7 linked regions of the Homo sapiens genome follow. The protein of the gene in region 4 interacts with the protein of the main gene of each other region in a pairwise test. Each region holds a gene or a part of one and is shown on either strand. Other genes may lie near its edges.

Region 1 (4,386 bases), on a different chromosome or scaffold from region 4:
AGTGTCACCACCGGAGGCATCAGGGCAGCTCCGGGCAGAGAGGCACAGGGCCCGTGGGAGCCTCGGTCTCTAGTGGGCTGTGGAGGCCACATGGGAGGACAGTGTCTTGCACCAGATCCCCATGGCCAATTCACCGCCACTGGGACTGGTCTGAGATTCCCTGAGGCTGGAGCGGAGGCTTCGAGAACCTCTCCAGAGGAGTCCAGGCGGGGGGTGGGGGCGGGGCAGAGTGGAATCCTGTCGTCATTGCATTTTCCACAGAATCTAGAACCTCTGTTGTCCCACAAGTAGGCTGATTTCTGATCGCACAGATGGGTCAGAGTAAAACCTGTAAGTGAGGAATACGTTCTCTCCAAAACCCAGATAGACCTAAAAAGTGTTAGGCTTGCTCTGGCCGTGGGTGTTGATAAATGAGGTATGCTTCCTGCCTGGGCTGCTGCTTCAAATAACGACCAGAAATATGAACAAAGTGGTGGGGACTTGAGTCTAGTGGGGTGCAGCAGCTCGCCCCACCTGGAAAGTTCTGCAGCAGGCCCACGAGCCTGTCCCCGTGCCTGGCTCTTCCGAAAGCGCAAATTAAATCTCTAAAATCTAAAACCCTCTCATCCCCAAGGCCAGCTACCCTCTTGCACTTCATAATGTCATAGGAATTATTTTTCCCCCATCCTACACTTCAGTAGGATTTTCATTATCGTTATGTCACAGAGAGATCCATTCTTTTCCATTGGTTCGTTTGTCCATCCTTCTGCTAATACTGTACTGGCAAGATTGACAGCTCTTAAATCCTTGCCCTGTGTTAGGTAAGCCTTCACCCTGTTCTTCGGAAAGTTTTGGCTATTTTTAGACTCTTTTTCTCTGTTAGATTTGGAAAGTAGTTTTGTCAAGTCCTAAAAAGTCTCATTAAGAGAGGATCTCACTCTGTTGCCCAGACTGGAGTACAGTGGTGTGATCACAGCTCACTGAAACCTCCTGGGCTCAAGTGATCCTGCTGCCTCAGCCTCCCTAGTAGCTAGGACTGCAGGCACATGCCATCATGCCTGGCTAATTTTAAAAATAATAAAAAAATTGTAGACTGTGTCTCCTTATGTCGCCCAGGGTGGTCTCAAATTCCTGGCCTCAAGCAGTCTTCCTGCCTCGGCCTCCCAAAATGCTGGGATTATGGGCATGAACCACCTCACAGGGCCCCAATCAAGATTTGTTTCTCCATTGAAATCCTTTACTAGCCTTAAGTACTTATTTAACTTTGGATTTTCCCATAGTATGTATCAGCTTTTAAAAATTAATTTTCCAACTATTATGAAGTAGAAACATAATGCAATTTCTTGGAATCTTGGTAAAAATCTTTTTCTAGGATTATCTCTTTGTTCTGTTGGGGTTTTATGTGCATAATTCTTAGAAATTTGCAAAAAGACAAGTTTATGTTTTATAATTCTTGTATATTTCCTGGTGGTGCTGGAACTAGTATAACGTTGACTAGAGGTGAGGTCATGGGCGTCTTCATTTTGTGTATCATGTTTTTGAGGAAGACAGTGAACTTCACATTCTTTATGTTTTTTAAAAACCAGCTTTACTGACATATAGAACGTACAGCCATTTAACGTGCACATTTCATTGTTGTTGTTATTTTTTTGGTTTTTTTTTTTTTTTTTGAGACGGAGTCTTGCTCTGTCGCCCAGGCTGGAGTGCAGTAGCGCGCACTCGAAGCTCCGCCTCCCCAGTAGCTGGGACTACAGGCACCCGTCACCACGCCCGGCTAATTTTTTGCATTTTTAGTAGAGATAGCTAGGATGATCTCGACCTCCTGACCTCGTGATCCGCCCTCCTCGGCCTCCCAAAGTGCTGGGATGACAGGTGTGAGCCACTGCGCCCGGCCATTGGTTTTTACAGTCACAGAATCCTGCAACCAAGACCACAGTCAACTTGAGGACATTTCCATCACCTCACGAAGAAACCCCCAGACCCTTCAGTTATCACTCTCCTATTGCCCCGGAGCCCCTCCACCACCCTAAGAAATGACTCATCTGCCTCTGTCTCTAGAGATTTGGCTGTTCTTGACATTTCGTATGTTGTTTCTCTTTTTTTCCTTTTTATTCTTTTGTTCTTTTGACATTTCATATGAATGGAATCCTAATATGTGTTCTTTTCTGACGGCTTCTCTCACTGGGCATGTTTTCAGGGTCATTCATGTTTTAGCCTGTTAGAGCTCCATTCCTTACATGGCTGAGTCATATCTACTGTGTGGGCTGTACCACATTTTGTTTATCAGTTGATCAACTTTGAGTTGTTTCCACCTTTTGGCTATTGTGAATAGTGCTGCTGTGAACATTTGGGTACAAATGTTTCTTTAAATGTTTTCAAATTTCTTCAGTATATATTTAGGAGTGGAATTTCCATTTGATAATACTATGTTAACTTTTTTTCCTTATAATAGATTTTATTTTATTTATTTTTGTTTTTTTTTTTTTTTTTGAGACAGAGTCTCGCTCTGTCGCCCAGGCTGGAGTGCAGTGGCGCGATCTCGGCTCACTGCAAGCTCTGCCTCCTGGGTTCACGCCATTCTCCTGCCTCAGCCTCCCGAGTAGCTGGGACTACAGGCGCCCGACACCACGCCCGGCTAATTTTTTGTATTTTTAGTAGAGACGGGGTTTCACCATGTTAGCCAGGATAGTCTTGACGTCGTGATCCGCACGCCTCGGCCTCCCAAAGTGCTAGGATTACAGGCATGAGCCTCTGTGCCTGGCCGGTATCTTGTTTTAATTTGCATTTCCCTGATGACATGATGTGGAGCATTTTTTATATACTCATCTGCCATCTATATCTTCACAGATGAGTTGTCTTAAGGTCTTTAGCCTCCACACCTGGCTAATTTTTTCTTAATTTTAGAAATGGGGTCTCACTGTGTTGCCCAGGGTGATGTGAAACTCCTGAGCTCAAGCAATCCTCCCACCTTGGCCTCCCAACATGCTGGGATTACAGGCATGTGCCACCACACCTGGCCTATTTGTACATGCTTTACTCTACATCGCACTCTCCTGATGACTACAGCTCTCCAGAAAGCCTGGAAAATGCATAGTGTCAGTCTTCCAACTTGAACCTTCCCCTTCAATACTGTGTTGGTATTTTGAGTCTTTTACCTCTCCATATAAACTTTACAATCAGTTTGTCAATATCCACCAAATAACTTGCTGGGATTTTGATTGGGATTGTGTTGAATCTATAGATCAAGTTGGGAAGAACCAATGTCTTGACAATATTGGGTCTTCTATACGTGGACATGGAATAACTATTCACTTAGTTCTTTGATTTCTTCTGTCAGAGTTTTACAATTTTCCTAAGATCTTGTGCACATTTTGTTAGATTTATACCTGTATGTTTTATTTTAGGGCAATGCTGATTTAATTCCAGTATTGTCTAAGAGCATATGATGTACGATATTCTTTTAAACTTGTTAAGGTGTTTTATGTCCCAAAATACAGTCTAGGTTGAGGAGTGTTCCACGTGAGCTTGACAAGAATGTGTTTTCTGCTGTTGTTGAAGTTGTCTACAGACATTCATCATTGGGGGTGCTGTTGAATTCAACTCTGTGCTTATTGATGTTCCACGTGCTTGATCTGTTTCTTTTCTTTTCTTTTTTTTTTTTTTTTTTTTTGAGACAGAGTCTCACTCTGTTTCCCAGGCTGGAGTGCAGTGGCGCGATCTCTGCTCACTGCAAGCGCCGCCTCCTGGGTTCACGCCATTCTCCTGCCTCAGCCTCCCCAGCAGCTGGGACTACAGGTACTCCCCGCCATGCCCAGCTAATTTTTTGTATTTTTAGTAGAGACAGGGTTTCACCATGTTAGCCACGATGGTCTCAATCTCCTGACATCGTGATCTGCCCGCCTCGGCCTCCCGAAGTGTTGGGGTTACAGGCGTGAGCCAATGCGCCTGGCCTAATTTTTATATTTTTAGTAGAGACGGGGTTTCCCTGTGTTGGCCAGGATGGTCTCCATCTCCTGACGTCGTGATCCGCCCGCCTCGGCCTCCGGAAGTGCTGGGATGACGGGCGTGAGCCACCGGGCCCGGCCTGGTTACTGTTTTCTGTTTTTGTTGCCCTGGTTCGTTGTTCCTTATTTTGTCTTCCACTCTTTTTCTGCCTTTTTTGGTTTTGATTGCATGTTTTGTGTGATTCCATTTTTTCTCCTTTCTTAGCAAGTCAGGTATGCTTCTCTTTCCTTTTTTTAGTGATAGCCCTAGAGATATTTATTTATTTATTTGGCAGGGTCTTGCTCTATCAGCCAGGTTGGAGTGCAGTGGTACAATCATGGCTCACTGCAGCCTTAATCTCCTGGGCTCAAGCCATCCTGTTACCTCAGCTTCCCAAGTAGCTAGGACCACAGGGTATATGCC
Region 2 (4,386 bases), on a different chromosome or scaffold from region 4:
GCATTGGTGCAATCTCAGCTCACTGCACTCTCCGCCTCCCAGGCTCAAGCGATCCTCCCCACCTCAGCCTCCCGAGTAGCTGGGACTATATAGATGTATGCTACCAGGCCTGGCTAATTTTTATATTTTTAGTAGAGGTGTGGTCTCGCCATGTTGCCCAAGCTGGTCTCCAACTCCTGAGCTCAAGTCATCCACCCGCTTCTGCCTCCCAATGTGTTGGGATTATAGGCATGAGCCATCATGCCCGGCCTGCAGCTGTCTCTTAATGGAACTCCTGCACCACATTTTGCCAGTAGCAGGAGGATTCGAAAAAAAAGTGCTTTGAAATGTAAGGGAGGGAGAAAAGGGGAAAGGAACTTACTACATTCCAATATGTTAGTAGTGAGCTAGTACCTTCCAGAATTCCAGGTTCTAGAGAGTGGTTGTGGCAGAGTAATTGTGTATATCTAGGGCTGAGCAAGAACCAAAAACAGAAGGGGTGTGAGGTAGCCTCAGTCTCAGTGTTGGTCTGTCCAGTGTGACTTACTGAGTGCTATGATGACCATTCCAATCTCCCTTCTCACCTCTGTTTCCTCTTCACACACTGGCCTTCTCATGATTCCTGACTGTACTAGACATCCTCTTTCTGCCTGAGAATTTTGTTTTCTTTCTTTCTTTCTTTCTTTTTTGAGACAGGGTCTTGCTCTGTCACCAAGGCTAGAGTGCAGTGGTGTGTCATAGCTCACTGCAGCCTTGACCTCCTGGGCTCAAGCGATCCTCGCACCTCAGCCTCCTAAGTAGCTGGGACCACAGGGACATGCCACCATGCCTGGCTAATTTTTTAATTTTTTGGAGAGACAGGGTCTCACTGTGTTGCCCAGGCTTGTCTTGAACTCCTGGGCTCAAGCGATCCTCCTGCTTCAGCCTCCGAAAGTGTTGAGATTATAGGCATGAGCTACCGTTTCAGTGTTCTCTCTGCCTGGGTCACTTCTACGTTTTTCCCGGCTGGCTTCTTCTCATCCATTTTTTTTTTTTGAGACGGAGTCTCGCTCTGTCACCCAGGCTAGAGTGCAGTGGCGCAATCTCGGCTCACTGCAAGCTCCGCCTCCCAGGTTCATGCCATTCTCCTGCCTCAGCCTCCTGAGTAGCTGGGACTACAGGCGCCCACCACCACACCCGGCTAATTTTTTTGTATTTTTTTAGTAGAGACGGGGTTTCACCGTGTTAGCCAGATTGGTCTTGATCTTCTGACCTAGTGATCCACCTGCCTCAGCCTCCCAAAGTGCTGGGATTACAGGCGTGAGCCACCCCGTGCGCCCAGCCCTTCTCAACCTTTAAGTGTTTGCTTACGGGACACTTCCTCCAGAAAGCCTTCCCTGGCCTCCCAGTCTAAAATAGGTCTCCTGTGTTCTGTCTCATGGAATTAGTTTCTTCTCCTTTCCAACATACAGCCCAGTTTGTAATTATGTATTTATTTGTGTTTTGATGTGTTTGATGAACGTCTTCTCCAACTAGAAGTAAACCATGTTTATTAAGTAACTGCATAATCAGTGCGTGGCTCATTGTAGATGCACATTAAATATTTGGCAAAGGAATGAATGAAAGTCCACCATGATTCTACTGATTTCTTTCGTGGCCTTCTCTGTAACTGTACTGATCGGTTTTGGTTGTGGTTGTTAGATTGTTGCCTGCCCTGATGTGCTTCCTCGGAAGATGGCAACACCTGGAGCAGTGCAGGAGTCCTGCAGCCCCCATCCCCTGACCGTGGACACCCAGCCTGAGCAAGCGCCACAGAAGCCTCGTCTCCTGGAGGAAAATGGTGAGGCTCAGTGATTCAGTGGAACTGATATAGCTCAAGAGTGGGTGCCTTGGCCATGTGGCAGGCACTATCTGCGGGAGAGAGACTCTAGGCTGAGCAGCCTCTCTACAGCCTGCAGGGTCTAGAAGCAGGGAAAGGCCAGGGACCTGGAGTTGAGTCCCTGGTGTTCAATGAAAGCCATTCCTAGAATGGCTAGGAATTACACCAGCTTCTTTTTTTTTCTTTTATTTATTTATTTATTTATTATTATTATACTTTAAGTTGTAGGGTACATGTGCACAATGTGCAGGTTAGTTACATATGTATACATGTGCCATGCTTGTGTGCTGCACCCACTAACTCGTCATCTAGCATTAGGTATATCTCCCAATGCTATCCCTCCCCCCTCCCCCCACCCCACAACAGTCCCCAGAGTGTGATGTTCCCCTTCCTGTGTCCATGTGTTCTCATTGTTCAGTTCCCACCTATGAGTGAGAATATGCGGTGTTTGGTTTTTTGTTCTTGCGATAGTTTACTGAAAATGATGGTTTCCAATTTCATCCATGTCCCTACAAAGGACATGAACTCATCATTTTTTATGGCTGCACAGTATTCCATGGTGTACTGCCACATTTTCTTAATCCAGTCTATCATTGTTGGACATTTGGGAAAGACACATGCACACGTATGTTTATTGCTGAATTACACCAGTTTCATTAAAAACCTACAACGCAAATGATGACAGCTCTGGGTACAGGGACTGTTAAAAGATCTACACGTCTTTTACAAAAGTATCACAGATTTTTGCCTTTCTGTCATAGATTGTCTTTCTTTTATTTTTGAGACAGAGTCTCACCCTGTTGCCTGGGATGGAGGGCAGTGGTGCGATCTTGGCTCACTGCAGCCTCTGCCTCCCAGGTTCAAGTGATACCTCCACCTCAGCCTCCTGAGTAGCTGGGACTACAGGTGCCTGCCACCATGCCCAGCTAATTTTTGGATTTTTAGTAAAGATGGGGTTTCACCATGTTAGCCAAGCTAGTCTTGAACTCCTGGCCTCAAGTGATCACCTACCTTGTCCTGCCAAAGTGCTGGCATTAGAGGTGTGAGCCACTGCGCTCAGCCTCCCTCATAGATTTTCTTGTCTTAATGCTTATGTTAAAAAAACAAAAAAACAAGGCCGGGCTCAGTGGCTCACACTTGTAATCCCTGCACTTTGGGAGGCAAAGGTGGGTGGATCACCTGAGGTCAGGAGTTCAAGACCAGCCTGGCCAACATGATGAAACCCCGTCATGATGAAACACCGTCTCTACTAAAAATACAAAAAATTAGCTGGGCATGGTGGTGCGTGCCTGTAATCCCAGCTACTCAGGAGGCTGAGGCATGAGAATCGTTTGAACCCAGGAGGCAAAGGTTGCAGTGAGCTGAGACCGTGGCACTGGACTCCAGCCTGGGCAACAAGAGCAAAACTCCGTCTCAAAAAAGAAAAGAATACTGTCACACAATGCTTTTAGCAAATTTAGTCCTTCTAGCAAAATGTGATGGTCCAGAATCTCTTATTATCTTATTATTACAAAATACTGTGTGATGAAGTCCTTGCTGTTGAATGACTCACAAGATAAGAATGCCATTTCCCTTTTTGAAATTAGAAATACATTGTTCATCATTGATTCTTGAGTTTAAGAAAATTTATCTAGGATGTTATCATTTGAAACTCATTCTAGAATCTCTGTTACACTTTCAGTTTCATGATTCTCATTAGAGAGTACAGCTGTCTTTCTGTGTCATCTACTGAGTTGCCTAATAATAGTCATCCTCTTCAAATTTTCCTCTCTTTGCCAATGTGGGCAGCAAATGAAAAATTTGGAATTCTCAACCGTGTTCAATGAAAGCTAAACAAAGGTGTTAGCGATCTTTTTGGTATAAAAGAAAGTAGCTTCATGCCTGTAATTCCAGCATTTTTGGAGGCCAAAGCAGGTGGATCTCTTGAGCCCAGGAGTTTGATACCATCCTGGGCAATGTGGCGAAAACTCACCTCTACAAAAAATACAAAAATTGGCCGTGTGCAGTGGCTCATGCCTGTAATCCCAGCACTTTGGGAGGCCAAGGCGGGCAGATCACCTGAGGTCAGGAATTTGAGACCAGCCTGACCAACATGGCAAAACCCCATCTCTACTAAAAATATAAAAAATTAGCCGGGCGTGGTGGCAGATGCCTGTAATCCTAGTAGCTACTCAGGAGGCTGAGTCAGGAGAATTGCTTGAACCCGGGAGTTGGAGGTTGCAGTGAGCTGAGATCGCACCACTGCACTCCAGCCTGGGTGACAAGAGCAAAACTCTGTCTCAAAAAAAAAAAAAAATGTATTAGCTAGGCATGGTGGCACACGCCTGTGGTCCCGGCTATACCAGAGGCTGAGGTGGGAGATTGCTCGAGCCCAGGAATTCGAGGCTGCAGTGAGCTGTGATTGTGCCACTGCAGTCCAGCTTGGGAGCCAGACTGAGACTCTGTCTCCATAAAAAATAAAAATAAAAATAAAATTTAAAGCTGCTCAGAAAAGCCAGGGGTGGTGGCTCACGCTTGTAATCCCAGCACTTTGGGAGGCTGAGGTGGGT
Region 3 (4,828 bases), on a different chromosome or scaffold from region 4:
AGCCATTACTCAGGAATTGCAGATGGGCTTAAATGATTAATTTCATTGAGAAACTTTTATCAGATATCATAAAAAGCAGATAGCAATGCTGAAAATGAGTTAGCCACCAATGAACTAACATCTCAGCTGTCTAATGTCTAGCCAAGGGCAGCGGATGTAACATCCATATCTTCAGGCTCCTCTGAAATCCACAGGTAGTGACGCTGCCGGTAAAGTTGTCACCTGGAATTAGCCCACAAAATGAACACCATGCTACATGGAGCTCAGATAAATACTCTACACTCATTTGTGCTTTATAATCTGCATACGGCTCACAGCTTGCTTATTTCCTTTTACAGCTATCTCGTGAGGTAGGTATTCTGAGTCCCACTTTATTGGTGAGGAAACTGAGGCTCAGAGAGGTTAAGGGACAGATCTAAAGTCAATTTTCTAGTGAAGGCTCAAACCTGCCCATTCCACCTGCCATTTTTGTACCCTGTACCCCAGGTGCAGGAATAGCTGTTTAGAATCAACTTTTCTGAGAAAGAGTAAGAATAAGCCAGTTTAACTGAAAATGCCCACAAAGGCCAAAGAACAGTGAGAGCGAAATTCAGAATGAAAAATTCAAGGCTGGAGAAATTCCTTCCTGGGATACAGGTGGGACCATTTGCTCTTCTGATGCCTCTGCCTTGTTTTGTCTACTCCCAGCCCCTTCCCACTGTCAGGCAACTCCAAGAAGGCCCTGGAATGGTGGAGGCAGGGAAGAGGCTGCTGGGGAGGAGGTGGGTGTCAGCCCGAGAGTGGAATTTTCTCTGGTTGTATTTCCACCTCTACCTTTTCTACTCCCTTCATCTGCTTCTCCTTTGCTGCCGACTTTAGACAGACTGGCTCAAAGGAATTGCCATTTCATAGCAGAAGTCCAAAGCCGATAGAAAATGACTCTTCCCCGGTGAGTTTCCATGGATCTAGAGAGACCAGAAAAGCGCAATTTTTGATGGAGTCTTAGCTCCCTCCTTCTCCAAGGCACTGTGGACTTGGCAAGTGTTTCATGTAGACTAAATTCAGTTGCTTTTGTGTTGTGTGTTGGGCTGGAGGGAGGCTCAGAGAAGCTGCTAGACAAACTACTACTTAAGAGCACAGAAGCTGCACTAGACTGCCTGGATTCAAATCCAGCTTTGCCGTAATCTAACTTGGGACCTTCGACAAGTTGATTAACCTCTCTGTGTCTGTCTCCTCATCTATAAAAAAGGAGGATAATAGTATTACCCATCTCATAGGGTTGTTATGGGAAGTAAATGAGTCAGCACATGCAAAACCTTTAGCACAGTGCCTGGCACAGAAAGAACACTGAAAGGATTCTCTGTTTTTATCTTCATACAGGCCCTGCCCATCCATTATGCTCCCTGCATTTTCACCATAGCAGAACTCTTCCTCTAGACTGAGCATTGCTTTTTCCTGGTATCAGATGTTAGATTGTAAATATTGCTGAGACATAAGGATTACAAACATTTAATATCAGTCATGTGTTAATATCTGTTCACTATTAGAACAGAGAGTGGAGGAAATTGGACATTTAAAGAGGTCAGAGAAGAGTGAAAGAAGAGGAGAGTGTCAAGGGGAGCTTCTGTGTGAACAGGGCAGGACCTTCTAGGCAGCCAGAACCTGCATGAAGAAGATACATAGTTCCCCCAGTCCCCTGGGTTGGGAGGAAAACATGGAATTGGTTTGGGGCACACAGAGAGGCAAAGGGAGAGACTGAAGACCCACCAAGGATTAGCCCGGGGGTCAAGTGATGAAGCTTCTGGAATGAAGCTCTGGTCTGAGCTCTGCTACACATTAATCAGCTGTTCTTGGCAAGTAACTTTATGTTTCTGGAACTTGATGGGTTCATTGTCCAGTTGGAGGTGACCCCTTTTCTACCTTCCTCACAGGGTTATTTGCACAAAGAGTTACTACAGCAAATTCTGCAGTCAATTTATTTGGAGTATTGAACAACAGATACAAATGGTTTTTTTTTAAAAAGGCTATATATGAGAAATATAAATGAGGCATGTTGGCCTCATACTGCCTTTTACTCTGTCTCTGCTCTGTGCCGTGCACTTGTGCATGCTCTCTTTCTCTCTTTCTCTCTCTCTCACTGATGATCTCTCTCACTTTCACTCTCTCTCTCTTGCTGATGCTCTCCCTCACACTATCTTTCTCATTCATTCTCTGTCTTTCTCATTCTCTGTCTCTGACCTTCTTTCCCCCTCATTTTCTTTCTCTGTCTGACACACACACACAATTACACACACATCCGTACCTTCACTTCCTTTTATTTTGCCCTCACTAAAGATACTAAGGAAGCTATAAAATGAAATGAAGCCTGGGGCAGTCTAGACAGGCAGGACCCACTGGTGAGGTCTCCAGGTAAATGATGTCCTTTGTGAATGTCGCACAGCAATCGCCAAGACAAAAAGCTTCAGAACATAAGAGTTGTAGACAAGAAGGAGAACTCATGTGTGACTCTCTAGAAGAGAAGAAAAGGGGCCTTGAGGCTGACATGGCTGCCTCTCAAGTTCTGCGTCAGGGCCAGAATCCAGTCTCTGGACACCCCATCCAGTATCTTTCACACTATACCATTTTATTCTATTTCCTTTCTGATGACTTTAGATGTGTGACTGGCTTTCATTTGGCTACAACTTTCCTTAACTTGCTAGACAAGGTCAACCTCCCCACACCCATGCAGAGTTTAAGATGGAGCCACAGACCCATGACTCAAGTTTACTTACTAGAAAATTCCTCTCTCAATTCTGGTCTGAAGGCCTTGTCCAAGGCCCTGATCTCCTTCAGTTCCTTCTCTTCCACCAACAGGCGGACGATCCTCTGACCCAGAAGCCCTCCTGCTCCTGTCACAAGGCAGCTCCAGCCCATCGTGGCCAATCCAAAGTAGCAGGAAACACTTGCCAGGAAACAGAAGATGCTGGAGAGCAGATCTGATTCTAGCGTGACCCAGAAGAGGGCTAAAAACAAGAGGTAAAATGGTTATACACTCAGCAGATGCCTTATTTTCCTCCACCCCATTTTTTACAAAAATTCCATGACCCCACAACTGCCAGGAGTAGTTGAAAGAAAAGGAGAAAGCTCTAACCGTAACTTAGATTGTTAAAAGCTGGACAGAGGAGTCCAAGTCCTTACTGCCTCATCCCTGGAGGAAGGACTGGAGCTTTATGCTCTGTGGCTTGTGTCTCAGCCCTTATTACCTTGAACTCCTGCCACATACTCATTGCTCCCTCCTCCTCCAGAATCCCTTTTCTCAGAATAATAGTGACCTTTAGGTTATATCTCTAATTCTTCCCAGGAACAGGAAGAGAAATCCAATCTTAAGGCCACAGTGTGATAAAGAGTCTTGGCTTTAGCCTTAACAGAACACTGGTCAGTTGATACCAGCTGTCTGGGATCTGCAATCTGTGAACTTAAACCAAACTGGGAGAAGTCTCCAAGTGCAATGTAAATGTTGTCCTTGTACAGTAAATCCACCTGGAGGGAGATCTATTTTAGCCCATTATCAACTCTCTGAGAGTGTCATTTGAAACGTCACTGCTGTCTTGCAAAGTTTAGAAATTTTCAATGGTGACAGCTCCAATCACTAAGTTTTATGTGAGGTGACTTTCTTTTCCACCCAATATATCCAAAACCTCAATTGCAATTTTTCCCTGGAGAGCTCTGGGTTCCTAATGGAAGAACCTCATTGAAGGAAAGGTATCTAGTGATAACGAATTAATCATATGGCCTGTAATACAAGTGTGGGGATTTGTAGTTGTATGCCCAATGACTCTAATCATAGATATTTGCACTCATCTTACATTTTTGGCTGCAAAACCATTCTTAGCAAATTGTTGAACTGAAGATGCTATGAATGCTTCTGAAACCTATGCCCCAGTCTGCCCAAACATCACTGCCATAAACTCCCCAAGACACTTTTCTCTACTTAAAAAAATAGAGATGTAGTTTTTTTAAGTAGATGTAATCTGGGCATTACAAGGCCCAGATCTTAAGCGTTCAGTGTACACTTAAGTGTTCATTGTCAATGAACCTTGACAGTTATATATGTCCATGTAAGTACCAACGAAAAGAAGACCACCATTTCCTTCACTCCAGAAAGTTTTATCTGCCTGTTCTTAGTCAATTGCCTGCCCTCCCCCGAGTTTACCTGGTAGGCAATTACTTTCTGATTTTTATTCCCACAGAGTTCCCACTTTATTCCTATATTTTCCTAATTTTTTCTTCTAAGATCTTTGTGATTCTGGATATATATTTAAATATAAAATCATTCTGAACTGAAGTTTTGTTCATGGAGTACAGAAAAATTGACCACTGATTGTCTCTATTGTTTGTTCATTTTTCTATTTCATGATTTTCATTATTTTTATTATTGGCTTAAATGTTTATTAACTTTGGGTTTATTTTACTCTTCTTTTTCAGGGTTCTTATGATAAAAGCATAGATAATTGACTTTACTTCTTTGCTCATTTCCACCATAGGCATTTAAAGTTGTAAATTTCTCTCTAAACACTATGTTAGCTGTATCCAACATTTTGATGCATTGGGTTATCATTATTCAGTTACTGACGTTTTGAATTTTTTCTTGTGATGTCTTCTTTGACCCAAGTGTTATTGAGAAGCATGTTGCATGTTTTCTAAAACTGGGGATTTTCTTATTGTTATGTATTTCTAATTAAATATTATTGTGGCCAGAGCATATACTCTGTATGATTTTGATTCTTTGATATATATTGAGATTTGTTTTATGGTCCAGCCTATGGTCTATGTTGGTGGAAATGCCATAAGCACTTCAAAAGAATGCTTT
Region 4 (4,386 bases):
AGTGGGGTCCACATGGTTGGCTTTTTTTTTTTTTGATAAGAGAACTGAATGACAGGATATTTCTGAAACTTTTGTGACATTTCTTGAAGTGATTAGGAACTTGACAGGGTATTTCTCAACTGGAGATGCTGTATTAATTAAAACATTGACTTCAGGACTTCAGGTAATGGAAAGTAATTCAGATCTGCTTTGCTTTTTTTTTTTTTTTTTTTTTTTTTTTAGGGAGGAGATGGAGTCTTGCTTTGTCACCCAGGCTGGAGTGCAGTGGCACAATCTCGGCTCACTGTAACCTGCGCTTCCTGGGTTCAAACGATTCTCCTGCCTCAGCCTCCCCGAGTAGCTGGGATTACAGGCACCCGCCACCACACCTGGCTAATTTTTGCATTTTTAGTAGAGACGAGGTATCACCATGTTGGTCAGGCTGGTCTCGAACTCCTGACCACAAGTGATCTGCCTGCCTTGGCCTCCCAAAGTGCTGGCCCAGATCTGCTTAAGCAAAAAAAAAAAAGCATTTATTGGAAAGATAAAGAAATATCCTACAGAACCCAGTGGCAGGAATGAGGTGAGGTCTCAGGAGCTAGAAACTTTAGTTCTTTTTTCCTCTCTCATCTCATCTGTCCTCTCTACATCTCCATTCTTATTTTATAGATTGCCGTTCTTTGGTCTTCATGGCAGGTACGCAGCCCCCACTGCTTGTGAGTGTATGTGACACAGGGCCAGCTACCTCAAGGAAGTGACTCTTAGTTGACTGACTGGCTCAGCTTGACTGCCTCTAATCTAACTGTAGCTAGTGTGGGGGTGGAGCACACAAAATCTTTGGTACAAATATAGCTGTTACGAATCCACTTCTGTGTCTCTGAGGACGGAAGAAGGCAAGTCCTGAGAAGGGGGCATATCATCATGAGCTGGTTAGATCCTTTAGAAGGTTTTTCCTAGAGATGTGACTAACTCCTCTAGAGATACCAACCACAGTCCATGGGGTCTGTAACAAAATGTAACACCTCTTTCTATACTGTTTATCCCTTCATTTTATGTGTACAGTAAGGGATACTGTTTATCCCTTCATTTCTGTAGGGCAGCACAGCTGGGTTTTTGTAGATGCTTTGTAATTACAATGATGAAACAGGCTGGGCATGGTGGCTCACGCCTGTAATCCCAGCACTTTGGGAGGCCAAAGCGGGCGGATCACTTGAGGTCAGCAGTTAGAGACCAGCCTGGCCAACATGGTGAAATCCCATCTCTACAAAAAAAAAAAAATACAAAACTTAGCCCAGTGTGGTGGCGGGCGTCTGTGATCCCAGCTACTCAGGAGGCTGAGGCAGAGAATTGCTTCAACTCGGGAGACGGAGGTTGCAGTGAGCCAAGATTGTGCCACTGCACTCCAGCCTGGGCAGTAGAGTGATACTGTCTCAAAAAAAAAAAAAAAAAAAAAAAAAGGAAAAGAAAAAGAGATTGATCTGTGGTTATATCTTTTAATTTCTCTCTATCATGCTCAGGCTCAAAACTGAAGGAGATCTTTGACAAGATCCACAGCCTGCTCTCTGGAAAACCTGTTCAATCTGGTGGGCGCTCTGTGTCTGTCACACTTAACCCACAGGGGCTGGACTTTGTTCAATACAAACTGGCAGAGAAATTTGTGGTGAGAAACCTTGTTGCTAGAGGTATGGGAAGCAGAGGCTGGTGTACAAGATTTCAGCCTTTTTCTGGTATTAAGTTAAAATTGTACCCACCTCTATGTTCTCAGAAACAAGGCGAGGAGGAAGTGGCCTCTCACCATGAAGCAGCATTCCCCATTGCAGTTGTGGCATCCGGGATCTGGGAGCTCCACCCCAGAGTGGGGGACCTCATTCTTGCTCATCTACATAAGAAGTGTCCTTACTCTGTTCCTTTCTATCCCACTTTCAAGGAGGGAATGGCTTTGGAAGACTATCAGAGGTAAAGTTGTTTTTCTCCCTACTCACTATCCCTAGAGTGATTAATGAAATATAAATAGAATTGGAATTTGTTTTTCCCTCCTCACAGCTCCTATTACGTACCTTGAATGTTCTATCAGAAATATAATGTCTTTCGGCCGGGTGCAGTGGCTCATGCCTGTAATCCCAACATTTTGGGAGGCCAAGTTGGGTGGATTGCCTGAGCTCAGGAGTTTGAGACCAGCCTGGGCAACATGGAGAAACGCCATCTCTACTAAAAATACCAAAAATTAGCCAGGTGTAATGGTGCACACCTGTAGTCCCAGCTACTCAGGAGGCTGAGGCACGAGAATTGCTTGAACCCGGAAGGCGGAGGTCGCAGTGAGCCAAGATCGCACCAGTATACTCCAGCCTGGGTGACACAGCAAGAGTGTGTCTCAAAAAAGAAAGAAAAAATATATATACATAGTCTTTTATGTAAACTGGAGAGCCTTTGGGATTTGTGAACTTAGGTGCCAGTAGTCAATGTAGTTTAGTGGAAAGGATACTGGGGTCTTGGAATTTTATCCCTGCTTTGTCATTTAATACCTTTGCAAAAATGGACAAATCATTTAGTCTTTTTGAGCATCTTTTCCTGATTTTTAAATGAGGGTAATGACATCTATTACCTCCTGTGAATTTACCTCATGGCTTACATGAAGCTCAGATTTGATGATGGATATGAGTGCTTGGTAAACAAAGTATTCTACAGATGTAATAATATGTAATAATATATATACATATTTTTTATTTTTTTTATTTTTTTTTGAGACAGCGTCTCGCTTTGTCACCCAGGCTGGAGTGCAGTGGCGTGATCTCAGCTCACTGCAACCTCTGCCTCCTGGGTTCAAGTGATTATCCTGCCTCAGCCTCCCGAGTAGCTGGGACTACAGGCGCCCACCACCACGCCCAGCTAATTTTTATACTTTTAATAGAGATGGGGTTTCACCATGTTGGCCAGGATGGTCTCGATCTCTTGACCTTGTGATCTGCCCGCCTTGGCCTCCCAAAGTGCTGGGATTACAGGCGTGAGCCACCACGCCCGGCCTGTAATAATATATTAATAGTAATGCTGAGTGTAATAATATATTGTTATTTTTTAGCCATAAAAAGTAATCTCTGGGCCAGGTGCAGTGCCTCATGCCTGTAATTACTTTAACAATTTGGGAGGTTGAAGCAGAAGGATCGCTTGAGCCCAGGAGTTCAAGACCAGCCTGGGTAACATAGTGAGACCCTGTCTCTACAAAATTAGCCAGGTGTTGGCTGGGCGCGGTGGCTCACGCCTGTAATCCCAGCACTTTGGGAAGCCAAGGCCGCCAAAGCGGGCGGATCACCTGAGGCCAAGAGTTTGAGACCAGCCTGGCCAATATGGGGAAAACCCGTTTCTACTAAAAATACAAAAAATTAGCTGGGCATGGTGGCAGGCACCTGTAATCCCAGCCACTCAGGAGGTTGAGGCAGGAAAATCGCTTGTACCCAGGAGGTGGAGGTTGCACTGAGCCGAGATCATGCCATTGCACTCCAGCCTGGGCAACAAGAGTGAAACTCTGTCTCAAAAAAAAAAAAAAAAGGCCAGGCGCGGTGGCTCACATTTGTAATCCCAGCACTTTGTGAGGCTGAGGCGGGCAGATCACCTGAGGTCAATAGTTCAAGACCAGCCTGGCCAACATGGTGAAACCCTGTCTCTACTAAAAATACAAAAAATTAGCCAGGTGTGGTGGCAGGTGCCTTAATCACAGCTACTCGGGAGGCAGAGGCAGAAGAATCGCTTGAACCCGAGAGGCGGAGATTGCCTGAGATCGTGCTATTGCTTTCTAGCCTGGGCGACAAGATGGAAATTCCATCTCAAAAAAAAAAATTAGCCGGCTATGGTGGCATGTGCCTGTGGTCCTAGCTACTCAGGAGGCTGAGGCGGGAGGATCACTTGAACCTGGGTGGTGAAGTTTGCAGTGAGCCTTGATCATACCACTGTACTCCAGCCTGGGTGACAGAGACTCTGTTTCCCAAAAAAAAGCAATTTATCTCTAATTTGTCACCCTTATTTTGGCCTTGTCCCAGTGAATTTTTTCTTATTTCTTTTTTTTGAGACACAGTCTTACTGTTACCCAGGCTGGAGTGCAGTGATGCAATCTTGACTCACTGCAACCTCCACCTCCCAGGTTCAAGCAATTCTCATGCCTCAGCCTCCCAATTAGCTGGGACAAACAGGCATGCACCACCATACCCAGTTAATTTTTGTATTTTTAGTAGAGATGGGGTTTCACCACATTGGCCAGGCTAGTCTTGAACTCCTGGCCTCAAGTGATCTGCCCACCTTGGCCTCCCAAAGTGCTGGGATTACAAGCGTGAGCCACCACACCCGGCCAAATTTTTTCTTCCCGTATAGGATGCTTGGTTACCAAGTAAAGGATTCCAAAGTGGAGCAGCAAGACAA
Region 5 (4,386 bases), on a different chromosome or scaffold from region 4:
GAAAAATAACAGTTCCTGGTGACTGATTCAATATGGAGACTGAAGTCTTGAGAGGCAAGCGTCCGTGATGACACCAAATTTTAATCTGGTTGATTAAAAGAAAGTGGTGACGATGACAATGACAGTGGGGAGATAGAGGTAGCTTGGGAAAATGAAATCAGTTTGGAACATGATGATTTTGAAGGGGTACATGTTGGTGAAACGTGTAAGAATATGGGACATTTTGACTCTGATGTTTTGGACCTAGGGGACATTGACTTCAAGGATATTTTGACTCTATGAATACAAATATTTTATTCAAATTTGTACTAACATTTAAAAATGCTTTTCAAGAAGGTATTTTATGAAATCATCTCTATGCAGATGGTGTAATTTCTTGATCAATTTTCTATAGTACATCAATTAAACTGTTACCAAATCTTTCATTTTTAATGAAAATTATTTTATTGGAATAAATTGTTTTTATTTCTGTTTTATGACAACCCAAACCTGTTTTTCTCTGTGACAAATATTGTCAGTTATAGCTTCTACCATCTTAGAATTTTTCTCATGTCCACTATTTCCATTCAATTTACCCAGGTCACATTTTATAGATCAAAACTTTGTCAAGATTTTATTATTCCTTCTGTTCTGAGCGAATAATACGTGTGATGTATCCCTTTAGCTGCTGTCATTTTACTTTTTGTTGACCATCTTTGCCAGGAATTAGGTAAAAGATGAAGCAAACATAAATATGCAGGATCTGGGTGCATGCCAAGGGTCAAAACATTGCAGTCAAATTGTCTTTGGGGTCACAAGATTGGTCTTCTTGGTTCCATCATTTTATAGGCATCAAACCAAGGCAAGCATTGGTTTTATCCAAAGTGTGAGATCAGATAAAACAGTAGCTGGCCTCTGGCTCACCTAGAGACTTCAGAAAAGTCCCCTAATGTCTCTGCCTGTGCTTTCGTCTCATTGGGGAAGGGGGATGAGGAAGGGGAGAAGCTGTACATGTCACGGACACTCCAAAAGCCACCTCACCCAAGTCTAGCGAGGATTCTTGAGGAAGTAAGATGCAGAATGGTTTGCAGAGAGGCAGGAGGAAGGTATTTCCAAAGTCCTTCAAAATGAAGATGCTAGTTCTGAATTCTCTCTCGAAGGAAATGCAGAAAGATATGGATGAGAAGATGGACATTTTAATAAATACACAGAAGAACTATAAGCTGTAAGTGTAACCTGCACTCGTCTCTCCTCATCCCTAAAGGGTCTCCTCCCTTCCCTTTGTTGGATCCCTTTGGGGTTCAGAGGACACCCAGACTCTTGGAGGAGTTGTCTTTGCTCCTACTGCCCCTGTGACTTGGAGTCAAGGCCTTCCATGGCCACCCGTGTACTGGTTATCTCCTTGTCATGCTGCAAAATGTCTCCCCAACTCTCTGCCCCTCCCTGGCCCTCCTCCCCCAGTCCCCTTAGAAGAGCACCAAAGGAGCAGCAGGAACTCAGGCTGATGGGAAAGACTCACAGAGAACCACAGCTCAGGCCCAAGAAAATGGATGGAGCCAGTGGAGTCAATGGAGCACCCTGTGCTCTTCACAAGAAGACGATGGCACCACAAAAAACAAAACAGGGCTCACTGGATCCCCTTCATCACTGTGGGACCTGCTGCGTAAGTGAAACCCTGCCCGAGCCCAGCACTGGTGCCAGACCCCTGGCTCCGGCTCCCTGGTGACTTCCCCGAGCTTGTGCTGTATCATAGTGAAGGGACAGGTCCGCCCGCTGCTGACTTCTGGGTGCCGCCCGAGCCTGCGCCCTCCCTGACCTGCCTTGCCTTCTAGGCCTGTGGAGCCTCCTTAGCTGTGACCATGCAGGACTTGACCCTGGATGGGCCTACCCGCCAGCTCCACCCTCTTATTCTGTCCTTCCCTTTAGCAAGGGCAGATAAGGTGCCTAGCAGGCTGCCCTTCTTGGACCAGGGGAAATTGATCTTTCTTGTGCCGTTTCTGTCCTCTGCAGGAGAAATGTTTGTTGTGTGCTCTAAAGAACAACTACAATCGGGGTAGGTAGATTCATACAAGATGTGCCTTTTCTCGATCAGGTGCCTTGTTGTCCCCAAGGCCATGTGCTCCCAGCCGCATTCACATCACACCCCTCCTGAGGTTGTGCCAGGAGTAGGGACTGTTAGCAGATGCTGCCACCCAGCATGCTCAGTCATACAGGATGTGGCACCAGGAAGGAGGACTTGGGTCACCCAGCCTAGAGGCTGCTGCCTGGGGCTCCCATGGTGGGGAGGGTGCACCACTAGTGGCGGAACTGACCTTGCCTCAGGTCCTGCCCTTTCTCCCCATCCAGTGGGAAATATTCACACCAGGTCTGGGCACCCTTTTCACCCTTGGCTTCTGGAGCTGCCTTCTGATTTATCTGTACCTCAACCCCGGTGACATCGAATATGTGTTTCCAACCTAGCGCAGCTGCAGAACCTACCAGCAGTTCCGATTCATCACCTCCAAGCTCCTTAAGATGCACAGTCAGGGCTTCTTGTCCTGTTAAATACCACCCCAACCCCAGGCCTCCACTGGAGATTAAAAACCTTCATTCAAAGCCAAAGGGGATGTCATGGTTTTGAGTACCAGTCCAAAACTTGAGTGTGTGGAGGTTGATTATTTTTGGTTCTATATCAGTGTATTTCAGACTCCAACCCTTCCCCCTGCTTCCTGATGGATTGGTGGGAAATTACATCTTAGTCATCTTAGGGTCCTCCCAACCACCACCTCCCTCCATTCCACCTGGGTCTGCAAACGTCCCAGGTCATAGCATGGGGAGGGCCCCTGATGATAGCGGACGCCAGTCTGTGTGGTCTCAGGAGAGACCCTGCTGCCTGGCCCATCCGCTCCCTCCACATAATCAGCCTCCACCTGTGCATGGGGCCAGGGTGTCTTGGGTGATGCAGGGAACCCCTCAGCCTCGAGTTCTGCCTGCACCACACCCCTCTGAGGTCTTGTCACCAAGCAGGACTCAGGTCCCTGCTGCTCATAGGAACTGGGTAGCTTTCTTGGGTTCTGGGGATCCACCCTTCTCACCCCCTTGAAGGTTTCCTCTCCCTCCCTCCACCCCCAAAGGGAACATTCCTTCAGAGGCCTCAGGCCTTTACAAAGGTGGAGAGGAGCCAGTGACCACCCAACCTTCTGTGGGCCACGCTGTGCCTGCCCCAAAGTCCCAGACTGAGGGAAGGTGAAGCTTAACTGCCAGCTTGAAATGAGAGTAAAGAAGATACAGAGCAAACAGTGTTTCAGAAACTGTCCTGCCCTGGGTGTGATTCTTTGGCTTCAATTTGAAGGACGAGGAATGATGGGATTTCATATTTTATTTCACACCAGTTCCTCCTTGTTTCATCTCTTTGCTAAGCTGGCTGCTTCTACCATCTAATAAATAATTGGCCAAGTTCTTTTTTTTTGGAATTTTATTATTATGGTTAATTTTGTGGGTTCATAGTAGGTGTATATATTTATGGGGTACATGAGATGTTTTGACAAAGTTATGCAAGGTGAAATAAGCATGCCATGGAGAATGGGGTATCCATCCCTTCAAGCATTTATCTTTGAGTTGCAAACAATCCAGTTACGCTCTAAGTTATTTGAAAATGTACAGTTATTGACTGTAGTCACCCTGTTGTGCTATCAAATGGTAGGTCTAATTTATTCTATTTTTTGTACCCCTTAACCATCCCTACCGGCCCCCAAGCCCCTGACTACCCTTCCCAGCCTCTGGTAACCATCCTTCTACTCTATATCCATGAGTTTCATTGTTTTCATTTTTAGATCCCACAAATAAGTGAGAACATGCGATGTTTGTCTTTCTGTGCCCGGCTTATTTCACTAAACATAATGATTTCCAGTTCCATCCACATTGTTGCAAACGACAGGAGTTCATTCTTTTTATGGCTGAATAGAACTCAATTGTGTGTGTGTACGATATTTTCCTCATTCATCTGTTGATGACACTTAGGTTGCTTCCGAATCCTGGCTATTGTGAACAGTGATGCAACAAATGTGAGAGTGCAGATATCTCTTCAATATGCTGATTTTCTTTCTTGTAGGTATATACGCTGCAGTGGGACTGCTGGATCTATGGTAGCTCAATTTTTAGTTTTTTGAGGAACAACCTCCAAACTGTTCTCCATAGTGGCTGTACTAATTTACATTCCCACCAACAGTGTACAAAGATTCCCTTTTCTCCGGGTCAAGTTCTTAATGGCTGCAAATTAATGAGCAATGTATTTGGTGCTTCAGATAAATATTTAAAAAACAAAACTCAAAACACATGTAGGCCTTGTTTGCAAGGAGCTTATAGCTTTAAAGGTGAGATGGCAAACATGCAGAATAACAATATGGACCGTGTAGAAATAAGTACAAT
Region 6 (4,245 bases), on a different chromosome or scaffold from region 4:
ATCTGACAAAGGGCTAATATCCAGAATCTACAAAGAACTTAAATTTACAAGAAAAAAACAAACAACCCCATCAAAAAGTGGGGGAAGGATGTGAACAGACACTTCTCAAAAGAAAACATTTATGCAGTCAACAAACATATGAAAAAATGCTCAATGTCACAGGTCATTAGAGAAATGTGAATCAAAACCACAATGAGATACCGTCTCCCACCAGTTAGAATGGCAATCATTAAAAAGTCAGGAAGCAACAGGTGCTGGAGAGGATGTGGAGAAATAAGAACGGTTTTACACGGTTGGTGGGACTGTAAACTAGTTCAACCATTGTGGAAGTCAGTGTGGCAATTCCTCAAGGATCCAGAACTAGAAATACCATTTGACCGAGCCATCCCATTACTGGGTATATACCCAAAGGATTATAAATCATGCTGCTATAAAGACACAGGCACACGTATGTTTATTGTGGCACTATTCACAATAGCAAAGACTTGGAACCAACCCAAATGTCCAACAATGATAGACTGGATTAAGAAAATATGGCACATATACACTGTGGAATACTATGCAGCCATAAAAATGGATGAGTTCATGTCCTTTGTAGGGACATGGATGAAGCTGGAAACCATCATTCTCAGCAAGCTATCGCAAGGACAAAAAACCAAACACCGTATGTTCTCACTCATAGGTGGGAATCGAACAATGAGAACACTTGGACACAGGAAGGGGAACATCACAGACCGGGGCCTGTTGTGGGGTGGGGGGGAGGGGGCAGGAATAGCATTAGGAGATATACCTAATGTAAATGACGAGTTAATGGGTGCAGCACACCAACATGGCACATGTATACATATGTAACAACAAACCTGCACGTTGTGCACATGTACCCTAGAACTTAAAGTACAATTAAAAAAATAAATAAAAGAAAGTTCACCATAAAAATACATATACATTTTGAAATATGGAATTTCAACTCATTTGGCAGCAGTTACAGAGACCCAAGTTTAATGAAGGCTTGTTAAAGTTGCTCTTTTTCCTTGTTTTTAATTTTTTATAAAATAATCAAAACTCTATTGGCATGAACAGCATTTTAAAATCTTCAGTATTTTGTCTGCTGTGTGTGTCATTTGAAACAGACCTTTTTCCCAAACATAATCAAAGAGAGAAACGTTATGTTTGCATTTCTTTGTTCAAGGTGTTTATTGCATCTCAGAGGGCGTACATGCACTGGGTTTTTAAACTGAAATACAAAGAAAGCCATTTTGAAATTGGTTTTAGGTAATTTTTCCCCATTACAGTGTATGTTATCCCCACAGTAAATTCAGATACAACCACTTTTAAATGGTACCATACATCTATTAAATAATTTGAAAAATAGGCAAACACCTTTCCAACCCAATATGCTTTTATGAAGAGCTGCCAAGCTACTAGCAACACTGATCAACAGTGACCTCATTTATGCATCAAAATCTTAAGCCAAGCCATCAGCACAGACAGTATGACAACAAATTAAAACTTAAAGAATACAGTATGTACAGTAAAAGATACAATTCTCTGAATTAGTTTAAATCCTAATCACAATGTTACAACAAAACCTACTTTGAGCTCAGTTGAAGGATGGAAGAACACTAGTCTACAAAACACACAAAGAAACACTAAATTAACAGATGTACTAAAAACCCACAGTAAAGTAAAGATATTTGCAGTAATCTTTAAATTACAGATATACCTTGGGGTGCCTTCAGAATCACTTGAATAGCACCTCTCTAACCGCATTTTCATGAACATGACACAAACAGACCCTTTACTTTTCAGTGCATTTAATCAAGAATGAATAAATAGGTCAATTTAGATGCAAAACCTGTCAAATATAATTAAAATATATATATTTTAATATAGCAGTGATAAATAGGGGATTCTTCCCATACGATTTTTCGTTCTTGATAAGGTAGCTTCAAAGAGAAGTATTTATTATGGACGTTAACCTTTATATTTTTTAAAATAAAATTTCTTAACATATACAGTGCCACAAAAATAAACATTTCTCACAACAGTTGAAGTTCCTGTGATTGGAAAAATGTACTCCACACTGAAAAAGTTTTGTATATTTATGAGTGTTTTCCTTATTATCTGGTATTATCACACTACGCTTGTAACAGAGATACAGAAGAAAAGATAATTTATGGGAAGAGTTTGGGGTTTGTTCAAAAGTTATATGTACATTGAAACCTTCAAAAACACAGACGTCTTTCCAAATAGCTCGCCACACAACAGCTGCATCATCTGTCCTCAGGTGAAGTCCAAAAAAGCACTAACGGCATCAGTAACATCCATTCATTGTTTACATCGTACAATACACAAATAATCCAAATACACTACAATTTCAAGAGTAGGGATAACAGCTAAGGTAGTACATATTCCTAATGTTCACTTTCACGGCTGTGTTACACATTTTGGAAGAGAAGTTATGAGTAAGTATTGGGTTTGGTACTGGTGGCTCCCTTTGAAACTCAGCATCAATCTTATTTGAAGTCTCCAAACTCATTTATTTTCCTATTCAGTCACAAATATTGCAGCTGTAAAGAAAACAAAAACTAGAATTAGAAAACAAGATTATTACATAGTCCTCAAACATTTTACCTCCCTTGCAATTTTACTTCATAGTTTCTGAAAACAACTTTTACATAAAAAGGTCTCTGCATGGACAAATTCAAATTTACATACTTTTCATAGCTCTTTAAAACAAGCTTAAAATTTTTAAAGTTTAGCCAGAAATTAAAAAAAAACTTTTGATGTATAGTTTCATTTTAGATAATAATTATATCAACAAAAATTTGAATTTAGATACATATTAGAAATTTTAGTAGCAGGACATTCGGTATAGCATTCAGTATCTAAGAGCAGCCAACCTTTAAAAAGGGCAGCTAAAGAAAAAGGGGGCATGGCAATGACCTTACATTATTTTTTCATGTATTCAGTTATGGTGTTCAATGAGTCACTTTCTAAACAGCTGAACCAGTGACAGAATAGAAGAGAACAGAGAGATCCCTGGCGACCCGATGCCTTTCCTCAGCCACTTCCCACTCATCTCCCTGGCTAATTCATGCATCATTCATTTCTGCTGGAAACATTTGTGGGGTCTTAAGGCTTAGCCGCATAGATAACTCTTCATAAAATAGTAATTCTCTCTGTGTCTCTGTCTTTGTCTGTCTCTGTCTCTCTTTCTCTTTGTCTGTCTCTGTCTCTCTCAGGCAAGGACTGTCTCAAGCATATCTGTTTCCTGTACTTATCAAAGTTCCTGGCATATGATTAGGGCAACATTTACTAAGTAAGAGGTGAATACAGGCTGCTCTATGCAGTTTCCTTGGTCACTCCTGAAACTATTAAGTGTTCATTGTCTCACTTATGTCTACATTAGCCAATCCAAAGTGGAATAGAAAAGTTGGGCATAAGGAGAGTTTACTTGACTGAGATGTTAATACCTTAGAATAATGCATCATTAATCTTGTATAAGAAAAAAAAAACAAATCAAGAATCCACAAAAATCTTAGTAGACATTAGGGAAGGGTTTTAAGAAATATATGTAGCACAGCAGGTGCATACTGAAAACAACATTGGACAAGAGTCCAAAAACACTGAGCCTCTTACAATTCTTCCCTGTGGGACCCTGGGCAAATTCCTTAATGCCCAAGGATCAGTTCTTTTAGCTGTGAAATGGAGACAAAAAATATCTGGATAGTTTATCTCACATGACTGTTCTATTGAGAAGTGGATGTGAAAAGTACCGTGTAAATTATGTTCATCCATTCAGCAAGGATTTGTTGAGAACCTACCCACTGTGTTAGGTGCTGGGGTCAACAGTAAACATTTTTCCTTCATTCGTTTCCTTCCATAACTTCAGCATGAGTCATTTCATAAATTATATGAAATTTGTGAAATTTAAAACTAGAACATTAGAAATTTAAAACTCTGCTTGAATGCAGAAATGTAAAGGGTAATAATCTAAGCTTTATGAGGCAAAAGAAGGATAAACAAAATAAAAATACAATTATGCAGTCAAATATATTCTTAGATGATTTCTAAATGCAATAGTATAAATGTTAGCTTTCTATAAATTCAAGTCATCATGTAATAAAGTGGTAATTTTCTAATTTACCAAGTAGCTTGGGCACCTTTTTGCTTTATTAAAGCTAATCGTTGTGCTTTCCAGGATAAGGACAATTTGGAGGTTACTTTCCCTCCTAGTTACAT
Region 7 (4,727 bases), on a different chromosome or scaffold from region 4:
TAGGATTATTTGTGGCTATTTCACCTGAAGACATGAGAATGGATTAGATATTCCCCTATGGCACTGGGGATTAAAAAAAGATGTATGGGGGCAGCTTTGAAAAGTTAACAGTTTTATATTGTAATACACAATATTTAGAGTCTCTATTTTCTCTGAGACCTTTCACTTTCCTGGCCATCAGTGAATGGAAGTTGCTAACTTTGAGCCAAACAGGATCAAGGAAAATGGAATTGGGATTCAATATGAGTTATTACCTCTTGAACTGGAAAGACATGTAAACACGAGAGATGAGGCTGAAAATTTGGGTCAGCCATTCTGTGCCATGAGCACAAAAAAATCCATCCGCAATATGCGAAAAAGAGGGAAGTAAAATTTAGAGAAGAAGAGAGAAAAGGTAACGCGTGGCTTCAGGGAGAGAAGCAGACTTGGGTCTTGGTGTCAGCAGAGTTCCTGGATGTAGTTTTTTTGATAACCAGCTGCTTTTCTTGCCCTCAGATTTTTTGAGATATTCTTATATCCTTGCAATAAACCACCCTTTCTTGCTTATGTGACTCTGAGTGAATTTCTGTCCTTGCTGATCTGAAACGTTACTGTGCACAACAACTATAGAGCAGCCTTCAGAGCAGTTGGAGAGTATTGGAACCATTCCCAGGGTTGTGGTTAGTGGTGTCTGAAGCACCTGAAGGGGTTCTTTACAGGAGACAGGTCTTGAATATAGGCTAGCAGTTGAGTCTAATGCACTTCAACAACTTGCCACCACCACATTGCATTTTTGATCCTGTGCATTCCAAGTCATAAGAAATTGTAAGAAATGTGAGTATACACTGAATTCAATGCTAAATGATTTTATTGAAACTTAAAGAAATCAAACATAACTAGTAGAGAAAAATTTCAGAATGACATGGTAAAAACCACTGGAGCCCATATTTTTTCTGCACAGCATATTCAGATGACTAAATCCATAGTGGCTTTAAAAAATTGTTTAGTTCTCCACCGTGTCTCCACAGAAGGAAATGTCCACAATCCATAGTACACTGGTCGTGTAGCACGTTCCTGAGTAAAAAAACAGGCTTGCCTCTAATAAAGAGAAAAGAAGAAGCCTATATTAATGTCTATTTAAGGACTCTTTTCTTGGAGGGGATTGGGGGAGTAGGGGTTTCCAAACTAGCTATGTGCTAATGTCAAGGTTTATCTACTTGTTGTGATGAAATCAATCAATTCAGAGATCTGGAAAATTGCCATTAAGTTAGGTCCCTAGGTAGACACTTTGTTTGTGTGCAGCTGTTCTTTGAATGTCCAGAAATTAAGTGATTGTCTGAGCTATAGAAAGTTAATAGATTCTATTAGCATTCTTCTTTCATTTAGCCATTCATGCATTCTTTTGAATATGACTTGAGTCTACTCTTGATTCACACTTAAAAGGCAGTGTTCCATAATATTTAAGAGCACAGAATCCACAGCCAAAATGCTTGGAATTGACCCAGGCAAGGATTTTGTGACCTCTCTGTACCTCAGTTTCCTCATCCATAAAGTAGGATTAAAATAGAACCTATAAGATTGCTGTGAAGAACCGAGTTAACACACTTAAAGCACATAGAACAGTACCTGGCACAGAGCAAGCACTGCACAAATGTTGGCCTTGATGACCATCCCTGCATCACTGGTGCCCACTATGGACACGCGCGAGGATAGTCTGACAATCCCACCAGCACTAACTTGGGGTGCACAGTAGGGATGCTACTCACCTTGCATCTCCTCAGCCATGTATGTTGGAATCCCACGACACATGTTTGCAATGTTTTTTCCGAACTTGCTCAGGTCATCGACTTTGTTTGGGTTGACTGAGTACATCAGGCCCTTGGGAGGTGGTCCTCCTGGTCCCTTACCCTGAAGCTGAGTGTGGAAAAGAGAGGTAGAAAGGAAGAATGGGAGAGAATGAATGCCAAGCCCAGTGGTTTGTTGACTTGAGGGGTATACGAGGCCAACAGTGAGTGTTGCTCAGCTAAATTTTTCCATAATCAAGATGAAGAAGAGCCATTTCTAGCTTATTCTGTATATCTTAGCATTTCTAAGTGTCCTAAGGGATTTAGCTGGTTTGAAACCTCAGCTTCTCATAAACACAGAAGTCTGAGGCTTAATTTATTCTGCAACTTGGACCTCATTTGGTCATCATAGATTCCTTGGATTAGACTATGTAATAATCATCTTCTGAGAATGCAGTTTATTTATTTTCTCTACCTTGTCAATGAAAGGTACTCATTTATCAGTTATAGGAATATGAACTCAGGCAAATATTTTAAAACATTATGGATCTCTTCTTTCCACTCACCTGGATTAGTATGGCCAGACAAAATATACAATACCCAGTTACATTTGAATTTCAGATAAACAATGGATCTTTTTTTAGTATATCCCAAATATTGCATAGGATATATTATACTAAAAAGACCTGCTGCTTACCTAAAATTCAAACCTAACTGGATATCTTCTATTTTCATTTGCTAAATCTAATAACCCTAACTAACTCTTGCAGAAAAATGTCCTTGGCAAAGTACTGAGGCTCCTATTGGTGTGACCAGAGCTTTGCTCCTCTAACAGTCAAGGTTTCAAGTGCTTTGCTCAGCGGTTGTAGAGGTAGGTGTGAGCCACAGCATTTGATGTGGCAGAAGTTGCCTTCCCTCAGGCAATCACCAATAACTTCCCCCTTTGTGCTGCACACTACAACATACTGTAGTCAAGAGGGAATGACTGTGATCTTCTCGTTATTTACTGAAGGATGTAAAACCTCTCCCCTCACCAAAAATAAAAAGCCTTTTATTTTTACCTTCTTTTCCTTGACCAGTGCATCAAGGGATTGAATGGAGGGCATGACTTCCTTGTTCATTTTGTGCACAATGCATGTCTTCTTTTGAAAGAGTCTGGTTGCAGCAAAGCCCTGTTAAAGTAGATGGCAAATAGTGAGGCATGTGTTCTCCGAGGAGCTTTTCTTATCAGAGGTCAGTTCCACCTGCAGAGAGAAATGGGAACTCCAAGATCGTGATGAGCTGGGATAAGAGCACTGGATGGGGCACTGCTTGGCAATCATATCTATTGCTGACATTTGTGAGGACAGACTGCAATTCTGTGAGGGCAGAGACTGAGCATCTAACTGGTTTGCTTTATTTCCAGGTTCCAGCATGATAAAAACCCCTCTATATAAGTCTGTTTTACTGAAATAGACTTTAAAAGCTATCATGTTTTAGTCTCCTTTGATCCTCACATTTCAAGGAGACAGATAAGACAAAAATTATTTTTCCAATTGACCAGATAAAATTGAAACAATAAAGAGTTTGCTATTTAAAAGTATAACGTTTGTTAAATATATAGCTGATAATTCCAGAGTTGGGTCTCCTAACTAGTGCTAAGTGTTCCTTTCTTTGCTCCTCTCTTTCTTTGCTTCTCTTTTCCTTTCCTTCTCTCTTTCTTTCCTTCTCTCTTTCTCTCTTTTTTCTTTTTCTTTCTTTCTCTCTCTTTCTTTCTTTCTTTCTTTCTTTCCTTCCTTCCTTCTTTCTTTCTTTCCTTCCTTCTTTCTTTCTTCTTTCCTCTCTTACCAATTAATATTGTCATTTACATTTCCCGAGTTTTAGGTGAAATGTCAATTTCAATCTCTTTAGAAGGTCGTAAAACCTCCTTTGAAAACAAAGTGAGATAGTCTAAGCTTTGGAAGCAGTAATGTTGTATAAGTCTTTCAGCATTATTGAGGGTATCTGCAGGCAAGGCAAAAGGATGTTCATATTTGTTGTATATACCCACAATCCCTTGAACATAGTGTTTGTTGGTTTGAATTTTAACTGATCATGCAACACTTATTAACAGTAGTTATCTCTAGGGAACAAAATCGGATGAGCAAAATGGTCACCTTTACTTATAACTGTATGCTATGTGTAATTAGAATTTATTTTTAATTTCTTTATGGTTAACATGCACATTTTTTGTTAAAAAGAAATCGTATTTTTAAACAATAAAGTGAAAATTGCACGTTGACTACCTACATTTCCATAATCCCAGATGGAATTCCAGGAGTCCCATCCGTTGTTATTGTCAACATTGGCCACATTGTGTTCATTGTTGACACTCACTGACTGCTGCCCACTTCCAGCATTGTTGTTGTCATCATTGACGTTGATATTCTGAAGTTTATAAGAGATTGAGAGTGATTTAATATCACATTTCCTTGCAAATGCATTTTGGTAGCAAACTTGAAAAGGTGAGACTTACATAGTTAGCTAGGGCAGGAGCTAGAAAGACTCCAAGAAGTCCAGCAAAGACAATCTGAAATCACAAATAACATTGGTCTCCTGTTACATGGCAAAATGATGTCTTCTTTCTTCCTCTATCCAAGCTTATGAAAAGTATTCACTAATTTTACCAATGTGTTCAGTTCTAGTTCAATGTGTTTTTTTCTTCTCTTACCTTGCATTTTTTAACCATAAAGGTTTTAACGATAATGTGAAATTGCTGATTAATTATAAGTAATTATATTAATGTGATATATAGTTTTAGAATTTTTAGTGTAGGCCTTATGAAACGCTGGAAAAATTGATGAAGAAGGGAAGTTGAGAGCCAGGAAAGCTGCTTTCATCTCATTGCCATCCAGTACTGAGGAAGAAAATGTAATTTTCAAGTAGTGATAAATCAAATTATTGAATCAAATCCCTTTTAAAGTAAAACCCAGAATGTACCATCTT

Evidence for each region.
Region 1: the proteins of GLE1 (region 4) and ZNF57 interact in binary tests that used the Homo sapiens proteins (3 or more experiments, as listed by UniProt).
Region 2: the proteins of GLE1 (region 4) and ZKSCAN5 interact in binary tests that used the Homo sapiens proteins (3 or more experiments, as listed by UniProt).
Region 3: the proteins of GLE1 (region 4) and HSD3B2 interact in binary tests that used the Homo sapiens proteins (3 or more experiments, as listed by UniProt).
Region 5: the proteins of GLE1 (region 4) and TEX35 interact in binary tests that used the Homo sapiens proteins (3 or more experiments, as listed by UniProt).
Region 6: the proteins of GLE1 (region 4) and SNAP91 interact in binary tests that used the Homo sapiens proteins (3 or more experiments, as listed by UniProt).
Region 7: the proteins of GLE1 (region 4) and GKN1 interact in binary tests that used the Homo sapiens proteins (3 or more experiments, as listed by UniProt).

What each region holds. Positions count from the first base shown.
Region 1 is NC_000019.10:2,906,830-2,911,215, forward strand, and holds part of ZNF57 (zinc finger protein 57), read left to right. Parts: intron 1-278; exon of another isoform or gene 279-330; intron 331-396; exon of another isoform or gene 397-415; intron 416-4,386. UniProt on the Homo sapiens protein: May be involved in transcriptional regulation.
Region 2 is NC_000007.14:99,510,794-99,515,179, forward strand, and holds part of ZKSCAN5 (zinc finger protein with KRAB and SCAN domains 5), read left to right. Parts: intron 1-1,659; coding exon 1,660-1,798; intron 1,799-4,386. UniProt on the Homo sapiens protein: May be involved in transcriptional regulation.
Region 3 is NC_000001.11:119,413,484-119,418,311, reverse strand, and holds the start of HSD3B2 (3 beta-hydroxysteroid dehydrogenase/Delta 5-->4-isomerase type 2), read right to left. Parts: upstream 3,163-4,828; 5' UTR 3,110-3,162; intron 2,982-3,109; 5' UTR 2,893-2,981; coding exon 2,751-2,892; intron 1-2,750. UniProt on the Homo sapiens protein: 3-beta-HSD is a bifunctional enzyme, that catalyzes the oxidative conversion of Delta(5)-ene-3-beta-hydroxy steroid, and the oxidative conversion of ketosteroids.
Region 4 is NC_000009.12:128,532,017-128,536,402, forward strand, and holds part of GLE1 (mRNA export factor GLE1), read left to right. Parts: intron 1-648; coding exon of another isoform or gene 649-675; intron 676-1,496; coding exon 1,497-1,639; intron 1,640-1,744; coding exon 1,745-1,935; intron 1,936-4,338; coding exon 4,339-4,386. UniProt on the Homo sapiens protein: Required for the export of mRNAs containing poly(A) tails from the nucleus into the cytoplasm. May be involved in the terminal step of the mRNA transport through the nuclear pore complex (NPC).
Region 5 is NC_000001.11:178,519,233-178,523,618, forward strand, and holds the end of TEX35 (testis-expressed protein 35), read left to right. Parts: intron 1-1,139; coding exon 1,140-1,204; intron 1,205-1,440; coding exon 1,441-1,642; intron 1,643-1,989; coding exon 1,990-2,032; intron 2,033-2,439; coding exon of another isoform or gene 2,440-2,492; exon of another isoform or gene 2,493-2,580; intron 2,581-3,092; coding exon 3,093-3,208; 3' UTR 3,209-3,418; downstream 3,419-4,386.
Region 6 is NC_000006.12:83,551,716-83,555,960, forward strand, and holds the end of SNAP91 (clathrin coat assembly protein AP180), read right to left. Parts: intron 2,571-4,245; coding exon of another isoform or gene 2,556-2,570; 3' UTR 1,170-2,555; downstream 1-1,169. UniProt on the Homo sapiens protein: Adaptins are components of the adapter complexes which link clathrin to receptors in coated vesicles. Clathrin-associated protein complexes are believed to interact with the cytoplasmic tails of membrane proteins, leading to their selection and concentration.
Region 7 is NC_000002.12:68,977,079-68,981,805, reverse strand, and holds the end of GKN1 (gastrokine-1 precursor), read right to left. Parts: intron 4,312-4,727; coding exon 4,258-4,311; intron 4,170-4,257; coding exon 4,032-4,169; intron 2,936-4,031; coding exon 2,825-2,935; intron 1,894-2,824; coding exon 1,746-1,893; intron 1,078-1,745; coding exon 983-1,077; 3' UTR 830-982; downstream 1-829. UniProt on the Homo sapiens protein: Has mitogenic activity and may be involved in maintaining the integrity of the gastric mucosal epithelium.